Linked DNA regions of Homo sapiens. The protein of the gene in region 3 interacts with the protein of the main gene of each other region in a biochemical or structural test. Each region holds a gene or a part of one and is shown on either strand. Other genes may lie near its edges.

What was found. Proteins that work in one complex are often made in the same cells at the same time.
Region 1: the proteins of PTN (region 3) and ROR1 form a complex in vitro, tested with the Homo sapiens proteins (one large-scale study listed by BioGRID).
Region 2: the proteins of PTN (region 3) and MFRP form a complex in vitro, tested with the Homo sapiens proteins (one large-scale study listed by BioGRID).

Annotation. Positions count from the first base shown.
Region 1 is NC_000001.11:64,175,605-64,179,156, forward strand, and holds part of ROR1 (inactive tyrosine-protein kinase transmembrane receptor ROR1 isoform 1 precursor), read left to right. Parts: intron 1-1,823; coding exon 1,824-3,251; 3' UTR 3,252-3,552. UniProt on the Homo sapiens protein: Has very low kinase activity in vitro and is unlikely to function as a tyrosine kinase in vivo. Receptor for ligand WNT5A which activate downstream NFkB signaling pathway and may result in the inhibition of WNT3A-mediated signaling.
Region 2 is NC_000011.10:119,343,757-119,348,384, forward strand, and holds the start of MFRP (membrane frizzled-related protein), read right to left. Parts: upstream 2,950-4,628; 5' UTR 2,758-2,949; coding exon 2,704-2,757; intron 2,619-2,703; coding exon 2,516-2,618; intron 2,404-2,515; coding exon 2,290-2,403; intron 2,173-2,289; coding exon 2,017-2,172; intron 1,878-2,016; coding exon 1,664-1,877; intron 1,249-1,663; coding exon 1,118-1,248; intron 1,002-1,117; coding exon 876-1,001; intron 636-875; coding exon 559-635; intron 209-558; coding exon 60-208; intron 1-59. UniProt on the Homo sapiens protein: May play a role in eye development.
Region 3 is NC_000007.14:137,249,539-137,253,599, forward strand, and holds part of PTN (pleiotrophin isoform 1 precursor), read right to left. Parts: coding exon 3,926-4,061; intron 1,854-3,925; coding exon 1,692-1,853; intron 1-1,691.

The DNA.
Region 1 (3,552 bases), on a different chromosome or scaffold from region 3:
TCTGCTTTGATGAACAAATAAGACCAATTTATAATGAGACAGTTTATTTGCATAGAATAATTAATGTTCCAAAATCCCCAATCCCAATTTGTCCTTTTAAGTGAGTATTTTGCTGCAAGTTTATTTACACTTACAATTAGGTTAGTGGGCATTTTGCCCTGGAAAATATCAGCCTAGAACAAATCTAATCATCATGAATTCTAAATTAGTAGAGTTTGGATAAGAGAACTTTTTTACCAAATTATCTAAACTGTTGTTTTAAACTCTGTACAGAGAGCTCTGGATTTCATATGTATTTCAACATTGTCAGTTTCAGTTAGAATTTTCAGGGTAGTATTCTTTTTTAAAAAATAAGGATTTGAAGGATGGGGATTATTTGAAAAATCAGTTGTATGTAAAATGCATTGTTTTTATTACTTTCTTTTCTAACAAATTAAATGAAACATCAGACTAAATTTGAGGTACATTTTAAAATAGTAAAAACATATAACATTATAGACATTTACTTGCCAAGATCAAATGTCATGATTCAATACTTATTTTCATTGTGAGCTAATGCCTTCACCTGTCTGTCTTAAGGTCAATTAATAAACAACCCACTTGCGAAGACCTAGGGATATACGTTGGTATGAAGGGCAGTGCTTCCAATAAGATTTCCCTTGAAATCTCGTTGTGAGGACAAAATACATGCATAAAAAGAACAGAAACATCAAGTTGATAATAATAACAAAAAGTTAAATAGTACTTACCATGGGCCAGACATAGGTCTGAGTGCTTTACAAACTTTAACTCATAGGTCTGAGTGCTTTACAAACATTAACTCATTAAAAGTTTGCAATAACATGGTAAGTACAATTATTATCATCCCATTTTATAGATGAAGGAATTGAGGCAAAAGTTAAATGTTGTATCTGGGGTCACACAGCTGGTAAGTGGAGAAGGCAGGATTCCAACTCAGACTGGCTATGGAGGCCACTTGTGTAACCAGCCACCACACTGCTTTGTGTATGTGGTGGCATTCACAGTAAAGGCAAAAGAGTCTAGCAAAGAAATGACCATAGTGGTCAGGGAAGGTTTTGCGGGAAGTGGGGCCTGAAACAGGCTTTTTAGAAAACAAAGGATTTAATCAATGGAGAAGACCGCATTTCAGACCTTCCCATCTCTATTGTGAGTACTTCAGAAGGACAATCTTTTGTTTTGGTTTCTCTTTTAGCACAATAAATATTCGAAGAATGGCAGAACATTGGAGGAACAAAAGTATTAGGCAAGAATGTAAATGGTTTCAGGAGTGGACATTGAGAAAACCTATTTAACTAAAGTGATGCCATCACACAGAGAAGTAGCAAGGGATCATGTCAGGAAAGTGAGTTAGGACCAGATTACAAATGCTCTGAGTACCAGGCTGTAGCCTCTGTGGTAGTGCTTCTGACACCCTAATCTTCACAGAAACCACTGGGGTCTTGTTAAATGCACATGCAGATTCAGTAGGTCTGAGGTGGGCCCAAGAGTCTGCATTTGCAGTAAGTTTGGGTGATGCTGATGTTGCTGGTCCCCAGACCACAGTTTGAGTACCAAGACTCTAGACAACAGCAAAAAACCATTTTGTGGCTGGGTTGAGGGAAAGGGATAGGGTAGTGATGGAAAGTTGTCTATGGCACCTCCCCTGAGTTGCAGCCAACGATTTGAAAGATATATAGACCTACAATATTTTATTGAATTTGTTTATAGAACCTTTTTCTATATGCCCCGTCCCTCCTTTCGGATGCAAAGCTGTCTTGCCTGAAGATATGTTTTAAACCACGTTTTTCCTCTCTTTCATACAGAGCAAGGCTAAAGAGCTACCTCTTTCTGCTGTACGCTTTATGGAAGAATTGGGTGAGTGTGCCTTTGGAAAAATCTATAAAGGCCATCTCTATCTCCCAGGCATGGACCATGCTCAGCTGGTTGCTATCAAGACCTTGAAAGACTATAACAACCCCCAGCAATGGACGGAATTTCAACAAGAAGCCTCCCTAATGGCAGAACTGCACCACCCCAATATTGTCTGCCTTCTAGGTGCCGTCACTCAGGAACAACCTGTGTGCATGCTTTTTGAGTATATTAATCAGGGGGATCTCCATGAGTTCCTCATCATGAGATCCCCACACTCTGATGTTGGCTGCAGCAGTGATGAAGATGGGACTGTGAAATCCAGCCTGGACCACGGAGATTTTCTGCACATTGCAATTCAGATTGCAGCTGGCATGGAATACCTGTCTAGTCACTTCTTTGTCCACAAGGACCTTGCAGCTCGCAATATTTTAATCGGAGAGCAACTTCATGTAAAGATTTCAGACTTGGGGCTTTCCAGAGAAATTTACTCCGCTGATTACTACAGGGTCCAGAGTAAGTCCTTGCTGCCCATTCGCTGGATGCCCCCTGAAGCCATCATGTATGGCAAATTCTCTTCTGATTCAGATATCTGGTCCTTTGGGGTTGTCTTGTGGGAGATTTTCAGTTTTGGACTCCAGCCATATTATGGATTCAGTAACCAGGAAGTGATTGAGATGGTGAGAAAACGGCAGCTCTTACCATGCTCTGAAGACTGCCCACCCAGAATGTACAGCCTCATGACAGAGTGCTGGAATGAGATTCCTTCTAGGAGACCAAGATTTAAAGATATTCACGTCCGGCTTCGGTCCTGGGAGGGACTCTCAAGTCACACAAGCTCTACTACTCCTTCAGGGGGAAATGCCACCACACAGACAACCTCCCTCAGTGCCAGCCCAGTGAGTAATCTCAGTAACCCCAGATATCCTAATTACATGTTCCCGAGCCAGGGTATTACACCACAGGGCCAGATTGCTGGTTTCATTGGCCCGCCAATACCTCAGAACCAGCGATTCATTCCCATCAATGGATACCCAATACCTCCTGGATATGCAGCGTTTCCAGCTGCCCACTACCAGCCAACAGGTCCTCCCAGAGTGATTCAGCACTGCCCACCTCCCAAGAGTCGGTCCCCAAGCAGTGCCAGTGGGTCGACTAGCACTGGCCATGTGACTAGCTTGCCCTCATCAGGATCCAATCAGGAAGCAAATATTCCTTTACTACCACACATGTCAATTCCAAATCATCCTGGTGGAATGGGTATCACCGTTTTTGGCAACAAATCTCAAAAACCCTACAAAATTGACTCAAAGCAAGCATCTTTACTAGGAGACGCCAATATTCATGGACACACCGAATCTATGATTTCTGCAGAACTGTAAAATGCACAACTTTTGTAAATGTGGTATACAGGACAAACTAGACGGCCGTAGAAAAGATTTATATTCAAATGTTTTTATTAAAGTAAGGTTCTCATTTAGCAGACATCGCAACAAGTACCTTCTGTGAAGTTTCACTGTGTCTTACCAAGCAGGACAGACACTCGGCCAGAAAAAAAAAAAAAAAAAAAAAACAAGCAAACAAAAACATTGTGGGATGTGCACTCCATTGGAGTGCATGACATGGCATTGGGATTGGAACATGTGGTTTCGAGCACTGAAAGCTGCAAACCAGTGAAGAGGA
Region 2 (4,628 bases), on a different chromosome or scaffold from region 3:
GCCGGGGGTGGCAGACAGTGAGGATGGAGTTATCCATGGCTCTTCCCTGGCTCCTGTACCTGCCCAGGAGGCTGAAGGCCCCTGAGCTGCTGGTCTCATACACCTCCACGTAGTCAAACTTGCACTCGTCCTGAGCCTCCAGGCTGAAGTTGTGGAACTGTAGTTCTATGCTGTGTCCGGCAGGCACCGAGATATGCCAGGTGCAGAGCTGGGGGAGGGCATAGGTGGAGCAATTCATGGCCCCTTCTCCTGTCTCATCCCGGGCACCCAGAAGGGTCTTCTTCCCCCACTGCTGGCTGGGGGGATGGGGTGGTGCTTTCATCATTGGTGGTTCTTAAGGACCTTTAATTTACCTGGTTTCAGAGGTGAGTTGACCCAGTGTGGGAACATCTGGGTACACAGCAGGCACTTAATAATATTCCCCCATCCCCCGTCTGCTTGATCTCTGACCTTCCCAAGTAGAAGGTAGTGTCTACCATGCCATTCCCATTACACTAACTTGGGGATCAGGTGCTTCCGTGTGTGCCCCTCCCGTTCTGCATGGAGCACTGTGCTTACCAGTTGGTGAGGGTACTGCTGCAGGTAGCTGGGAGTAGAGAAAGTGCCCTGGAGGCCAGTCAGATTCCCCCCACACCCTGTAGAGAGGTGGAAGGGCTCATGAGTTTGCTAGGATCTGTGCCTCCATCCAATAGGGCTGGCGGTGATTACAGAGCGAGAGTTTTGGCCATGCCCATGGGAAACAAGTTCTGGGCCAAAGAATGACTGAGCAGGAAATGCTGACGGAGGGCCCGGTTTGAGGCTGGACCAGAGCTGGGGAGCCCAGCTTGAACCCAGATCAGACGCCTGAAGAGAGGACCCCCATGCCTGGCCCGTACCCGAGAACTTGGCACTGCAATTGGTCTCATCACTGCCGTCAGCACAGTTGGCAAAACCATCACACACTGAGTCAGGTAGCAGGCAGATGAGCTGGTCACAGCGGAACTCATCATGGGCACAGCTCCCTGGATGTGGGCACCAGGAGTCAGGGAGGCCCGGAGTCTCCACCCCTTTGACAGGACTGGGAGTGGGTGGAGGGGAAGAAAGTGGACACTCAACAGGCAGGTGGGAACACACTCACCGCGCCCAGGGGCCATAGCCTGGTACCAGGCATGGAAACCAAATCCTTCCACACTGCTGTCAGAGACGAAGACCACCAGGAGGTGGCTGGCATTGGTGTTGAGCGTGGGGGGAGGCACCCTTCCACAAACCCTGCAAGAAGCCAGGTTGGGGGTGAGGGAGGCTCCAAGAGCAGGGTCAGCCAGAGAGGAGCTTGCCTGGGCCTTGCAGTCCTATTTTCTCAACCCCCAAACTGGTGACCATGTGGTCAAAAAGGCTCCTCTGATGTCCCAGGGAGCTCTGACCTTCCTAGCACCTGCACATTTATCCTTGTAGCATCTACTCATGGGGAGATAGGCAGGAGATCCATGTTACAGACTAGGAAACAGGTGAGAGAGGGGAAGTGATCTTCCTCACGGCACACAGCAAGGTGGTGGCAGAGCTGGGCCCAGAGGTCTAGTCTCTCAATTTCTTCCTCGGTTAGCCCTTCTCCCTGCCACTCCCTGATTCTGCTCTTTAGATAGTGGTTCAGGACACGGTGGGATGTCCTGGGGACAGAGGGACCTACCTGAGGAGGGGGCCTTCAGGCTCAGGGGAGAGTTCCAAGCGATCAAAAAGGCAAGAGGCCACACTCTCTATGCTGAGGGCTTCGATCTTGAGCTGTATTGCATGGTCTGTGGCCACCTGGATATGCCACACGCAGTGGGTGTTGGGGGGGTAAGGGTCTGGGTAGTTAGGGCTGCTGAAGAAGCCCCTTGGGCCAGAGAGGAGGCCTCCACAGGCTGCAGAGATGGAGGTTAGAGTTCAGAGGTCAAAAGGAGTGAGGTCCTTTATTCTCAAGGTGCCTCTTCCTCACCCTCCCCTCAACCCCACCCCGTCATCTTGGGCCCTTCTCCCGGAAGATCTGCCCCCAGTACTCACTGGACTGTGGGGAGGGGCTCACGCCTGACTCCTGCTGCCCTTTAGGGGTCCCAGCTGCCTGAGAGGTGGTGATGGTGGGGGTGGTGGTGGTCGTGGTAAGGCCTCCGGCAGGCAGTGGGCTATGGGACGCCCCAGATGGGGGTGCAGCCTGCAGCTCTGGAGGCGAGAAGATGGAGGGTGGCGTTCAGAGGAGCTGGGTCCTGGGAGGCTGGGAGAGCGGCTCATGGAGTTTCATTCCAAAGCCCTCGTTTCAAGCTGTCCCCGGGTACTTACGGGCCAGGATGATGGCCACCAGCAGCCCAAGCAGCAGGAGGAGCAGGCTGGAGAGCAGGAGGACACAGAGCCAGGAGAAGCGGCAGTCTGGCCGTAGCCCTCGAGGACGCCGACCTGCGGGTTGGCAGGTGGGGTTTTGAAAGCCCCTTCTGTTGGGTATTCCTCATGCTGTCCTTGGCTCCTGGGCCTCTCTGTCCTCCCCCAGGTCACCCCCTGGGATGGTTACCATGCCAGGGAGCTGGGACGCTGTAGCTGGCATCCTCTGGGAAAACTGGGGGAGGGCAGGGTGGCCCAGACTCAGGCTCGAAGGCAGGATTGCAGAACTCGGTCTGGAAGGGGGAGATACTTGAGGGCTGAGGGCAGCAGTGACCACTGGTGCTGGGTCTTAGGAGCACGATTCTATGTGGTCCTTACCTTGCTCGATTCTGTTGCCTCCATGCAGAGGATGACATCTGAGAAGTCCTTCATGGCACAAGGCTCTGCATGGCTTTCTGGAGTCCCTGTGACAGCCCAAGACCCCCAAGGGCCCACTCGCTGACCACAAACTCCCTGTCAGAGGGGCAGCCTCTACTACCCGAGGGAAAAGGCTGCCAGGCTAGACCAGTTCTTGGGCTGTCCTTGGTAGAGTGGTTTGGCCTATGGGCTACTCTGTCTCTGTGTGGGGGAAGGGATGGCAGCCAGGAGGAATTCACAAAGGCACGAAATGGTCCCTTAATCCAACTCAGCTGAGGATGCTGAGGTCAAGCCCCTGGCACAGGGTGGCAGTTCTTAAAGGCACAGGCGGTGGCTGAGAACACCCAGCAGAGGAAACTAGGTGCTCTGTGCGGGGATGTGACGAGGGGAGCTCTCCACCCCATCACCCAAGGCACTGAGTGAGCACTTAGGGGGTCGCTGGGAGGGGAGAGAAGTTGCAGGCAGAAGGGAGCCTTAGGTGGTCTGAGAAAGAAGCAGGGTGTAGGGGGTGGACAAAGCCAGCTGCCCACCTTTCCTCCCCACCAGGGTGACAGGGGTATTGGCCAGGCCGGGTCTTTGGAAGGCCCCTGGTAGATCACCGGTGTGACCAGGACAAGAGAGAAGAACATGGCATGAGCAGGGGGACTGGCTGCTCATTCCTGGGACCCCTAAGCCCGCAGGAGAAAGGACAGGGAAGGGGGAGAAGGTGCCCAGGTCTTGGGGAGGGTTGGGGTGTGGAGTCTAGCCACTGGGGCTGTTGCACAGTAGGAAACCTACACCCTGCAAACAAGATTACTTCATGCCTGTTTCTCCATGGGCGAAGTCCTCTTGGAAAATCCCAGCCTAGCCCTGCTGTCCTCAGGGAGAAAGGAAAGGGATTGGTAATCTGTTTTGTGTTAGCCATGCTTAGGCTGAGAGTTTGGCAGGGAGGGAAGTGGGGAGAGAGCCTCATATTTCTGGCTACTATTTGTAGAATGTCTGGGCAAGAGGGCTACATGCAGTTTCTCTCCTTTCATAACTATGAGGTAGCGTCACCATTTTACAAATGCTGGTGCTGGCCTCTGAGAGGTTATGTCACTTTCCCAAGGTCACACAGCTGGTAAGATACAGAGATGAGAGTTGAGCCTAGGAATGGATAGATCTTAGGCTCACGTTTTCTATGATGTACCTCTTTCACCCCACATTGGGGCTGAGGCATGCTGGGGGAGCAGAGGGATCAGAGTGACATGGGGGCAGAGTGAGGAACCCCTTGGGGATGGAAGCAAAGAGGACAGGCTGCCCTCCTTGCACTCAGGAAAGGAGATGCCTCCACCCACAAGTTTTTCTCCATTCGTCCCTGGAGGGTCTTAGTTTGCTTTTGTCTAGGGGGTCAAGCTGTTTCCTAGACCCTTGGAAGTCTAATGGTACATGGTCTTTAGGGAAGAGACTTTTTGGGAGCTGTAGGGACAGGTGCTCTTGGAGAGGATCAGACAGTCCCTGACCACAAAGTACTTCTCATTCTGGGTGGATCAAGACAGAGCAGGATTCCTGCCACACTGTGTGTTAAGAGCCTGGCCACAGGGGCAGCTTCCTGGACAGAGTGGCCCTGCGCTGAGCTTTGAGAATGATGAGCTGGGAGAGCCACGCCCTTGGGTCTGCTCCTCTGAAGCTGCTCGTTCGCTGTGATCATTGAGAGAGAGGTTGCTGTGCCGGGGTCTGGCCAGGCACTGGGCTCATGGAGCCGACTGAGACAAGGTGCCCTCGTCTCAAGGAGCCCCTGCTCTGCTGTGACAGTTCTCAAAGTGGGGCCCGGGGCCTTTTTTTAGAGGACTTGAGAGCTTAGAACTAGGCTCATAATAACACTAAGACATGATGTGCCTTTTTCACACTCATTCATGTTTTCCAGA
Region 3 (4,061 bases):
CTTCTTTAATTTCTTTTCCTTTCAATTCTGTATTTATGCTGAATATTTTGGTTCTACAGCTGGACTAAAAATAAATTATTTTGACTACAGTAACTCTGAGTTTTGCCATTTTTGGAAATGTTTCACTTGGTAGATAGGGCACTGATTTTGCTTAGATTTATGTGGTTGTCTCTGGACAAATGACATTTGGGAAGTCTGCATAAGTACTCACTGCAGTCACTCCAGCCCTGCTTCATGCCTTCCAAAAACCATATGACAACAGGCAGAGATTTCCATGATCTGGAAAGGGCAGCCTGAACCCTAGACTCACCACCTGCAGGTCCAGCCTGTACCTGGCCATCCTGAAGTTGGAGATAACTATTTCTATGGACAACTCCAGCAGTGGCCAAAAAGCCAGGCCTGTGAAAAATAAAGTCCTTTCTGGCCACCAGCAGGAAACCAGCCAATCTCCATCACCTTCTGCAGATTTTTTTTTTCTACTTTTATTTATTATGAGCATTTCTTACATGGTCATTTTTCTGAATCTCTCCTTACAATTTCTCTGGCAGTATGAATTTTCAGGACCACCTTAGAGTTAAAATATATGAGTAGAGGCCAAGAAGGTATTTGAATTTAGAGTTCATTGAGTCCCATTGTATTAGTTGGCTATAGCTCCTATAACAAAGTACCACAGAGTTGGTGGCTTAAACAACAGAAATTTATTTATTTATTGTCTTGCAGTTCTGGAAGCTACAAGCCTAAGATCAAGGCATCTGTAGGGCTGATTTCTTCTGAAGGTTCTCCCTATGGCTTGTAGATGGCATTCTTCTCCCTCTGTCTTCACACAGTCTTCTCTCTATGTATTTCTGTGTCCTAATCTCCCTTCTTATAAACACACCAGCTGCACTGGATTAGGGCCTACCCTTGTGACTGCATTTTATCTCAATTACCTCTTTAAAGACCCTGTCTCCAATACAGTGACATTGTGAGGGGGTTAAAACTTCAGCATATGAATTTGGGAAAACACAATTCAGACAATAACATCCATGATGAAAGAGTTTATTTCCCTCAGTTGGGATCCTTGTATGTATGAATTCATGGCCATAATGATTGTTTTTACCTTCTCCAGCAAGAGAGCAGAGCCTGACTTTCTGGGAGATACAGATCTCTGTCATTTAAAAATTCTGTGATGAATGTAGTTGGTAACCAAATTGAACTCAAAAAATATAAAGGCTCTGAAAACAAATGCAGAACCCATTAAGTTATGCAGTGAATAAAGGGAAAATGTAAAATAATTTTCCTGATTTTGTGAAAACTATATTTCAGATAATCTGGGAGAAGTTTGATTTAAAATTGTCTCCGTCATAAACATTCTGAGTTTGTTTTTCTTGTCAGGATACAGTTCCAATTAAGAGTGTGGAATATATGGTCATCATACAACTGTCTTTGCTGGTTTCTTTTGCTATGTTATTTATTTGGGTTAGGAGACTGTACCAATCCCCTCATCTATGCAGAGGACTTCAATTTGCACTCACAGGCTGCCTGCTTCAAAGTATTTTTAAAGTATTTTTGTGACTCTCAGTGTAGGGGAGTTTTTCAGTCACTTTCTTAAGGTAATTCACCTAATATTTCCTTCTGGAAAATGTGGGTTTTCCAGATCTTACCTGAGTCCATCAATCCATTAAAATTGTGGTATAATGGCAAGGACTTACCTTGAGGTTTGGGCTTGGTCAGTTTGCCACAGGGCTTGGAGATGGTGACAGTCTTCTGGCATTCGGCATTGTGCAGGGCTCGCTTCAGACTTCCAGTTCTGGTCTTCAGGGCTGTGTTCAGGTCACATTCTCCCCAGGCCTGGAACTGGTATTTGCACTCCGCTAAAGGCAGGGTAGAACCAAACAGAAATCCTTGAAAGATCCTATCGTACTTCCAGGATAATAAAGGCACACTTTTGTTTGTAACTTTTTTATTGAAATAATTATAGATCCATATGCAGCTATAAGAAATAATACAGAGTGTATGCGTGTGTATTGATTTCTGTTCAATTCTATCACATGTGTAGATGCATACGATCACCATCAATATACACCATTAATACACACTAATATACACTATTAATATACAGTCCCAATACAACAGTGGGTCATTCTTTATAGTCATGGCCTAGCCACCTTCCTCCTTCCCCACCTCCTTAATCCCCGGCAACTCCTTATCTGTTCTCTAGCTCTATCATTTTTCTAGCTTAAAAATGTTGCATAAATGGAATTCTACAATATGTAAACTTCTGAGATTGGCTTTTTTATTTAGCATAATTTCCTGAAGATCCATCCAAGTCATGTGCATCAATAGTCTGTTTCTTCCTATTGCTGAGTAGTATTCCATGGTCCCAATGTACCCCAGTTTGTTTAACCATTCATCAGCTGAAGGACATCCGAGTTGTTACCAGCCTTGGGTTACTACAAATAGAACTGCTATATAAATTCATGTATAGGTTTTTGTGGAAACATCAGTTTTCATTTCTCTGAGATAAATTACCAAGAAACTGCTGTGTTACATGGTAAATGCATGTTTCATTTCGTAAAAAACTGCAATACTCTTTTTCCACTGTGGCTGTACCACCTTACAATTTCCACTGGCAACATATGAGGGATCTGGTTTCTTGGCACCCTCACTAGCATTTCGTCTTGTCACTATTTTTTATTCTAGCCACTTTGATAGATGTAGAGTGATATCTCATTATGGTTTCAATTTCTAGTTCCCTAATAAGGAAAAGATGCTGAATATATTTTCAGGAGTTCATTTGTTGCCTATATATCCTCTTTGGTAAAATGTCTGTTAATGTTTTTTCCCCACTTTCTTATTGAACTGTTAGGTTTTGTTTGTTTTGTTTTTTGTTGTTGTTGTTTTGTTGTTTACTGTTGAGTTTGAGAGTTATTTAATATTCTCAATGTAAGTCTTTAAGATATACCTTTTAAACTTTTTGTAAGTGGGTTTTTAAGGTGCCCATATACAATTTAAGACCAAATGTACCTGTTCTCCATCACACTTTTATAGAACTTGTCTATATCCATTCAAATAAAAAATACCCCAAAGATTACAGAGGGAGAAAAAGACATACATGTATACATCCATTATCCTTCCTCACTTGTCTATGGGCCACAATGCATTTCCATAGAACACAGATAGGACATTTCAGGCATCATGTCCCACTATGGCTAAGAAAGACAAAAAGTCTGGATTGTGGAAGAGGTTATTTGAGGGTTCAATACTGGATATAAAGTTGAAAGTGTTGAGAGATCCTGTCTCAGATAGATAGATCAGGCCAGCATAAGACTGACTCCAGTCAGTGGGAGAAAGATTTATGAAACGTGGCTGTGAGCAGCCCTGCTGAACTCAGTAAGTGAATCTGTGAAACTGTGTGGAGGTTGGGGAGGGATCAAATGGGAGAGAAGGTCTGAAAGTGACAGGGAGAAACATGGAGAAGCAGGAGAATAAATAAGAAAAGGGGAAAGGAAAAATCAAAGGAACTTAGAAATAGAAGAAAGGAGAGAGAAGACAGATCAATTAACATTATTCAGAGGAATCAAGGATATATTTTATGTCCCTTTGGAAAGGCAGTGGTTCCCAACCAGGGATGATTTTGACCAACAGGGTACATTTGGCCATAGATATTTGGAGACATTTTTAGTTTTCACATCTGGAGCGGGTGAGGAATGCTACCGGAAACTAGCGAGTAGAAGCCAGCGATGCTCCTAAATACCCTAAAATGCACAAGACAGCCTCCACAACAAATAATTGCCTGGCCTGAAATGGGACCAGTCTGGTCACTTTGTGTCTGGTAAGATAAAGTTATTTAAAATAAAAAGTACTTATCCTTAAAAAGACATTTGGTGGAAAAATTTGAGAATTATCTCAGAGTAGGAGATTAACTCAGTAGCATGAGGCTTACCGCCAAATTGCTTCTTCCAGTTGCAGGGGATCTTACATCTCTGGGTCTTCATGGTTTGCTTGCACTCAGCTCCAGTCCGAGTGCCCTCCCGTGTGCCCAGCCCACAGTCTCCACTGGTGGGCACACACACACTCCA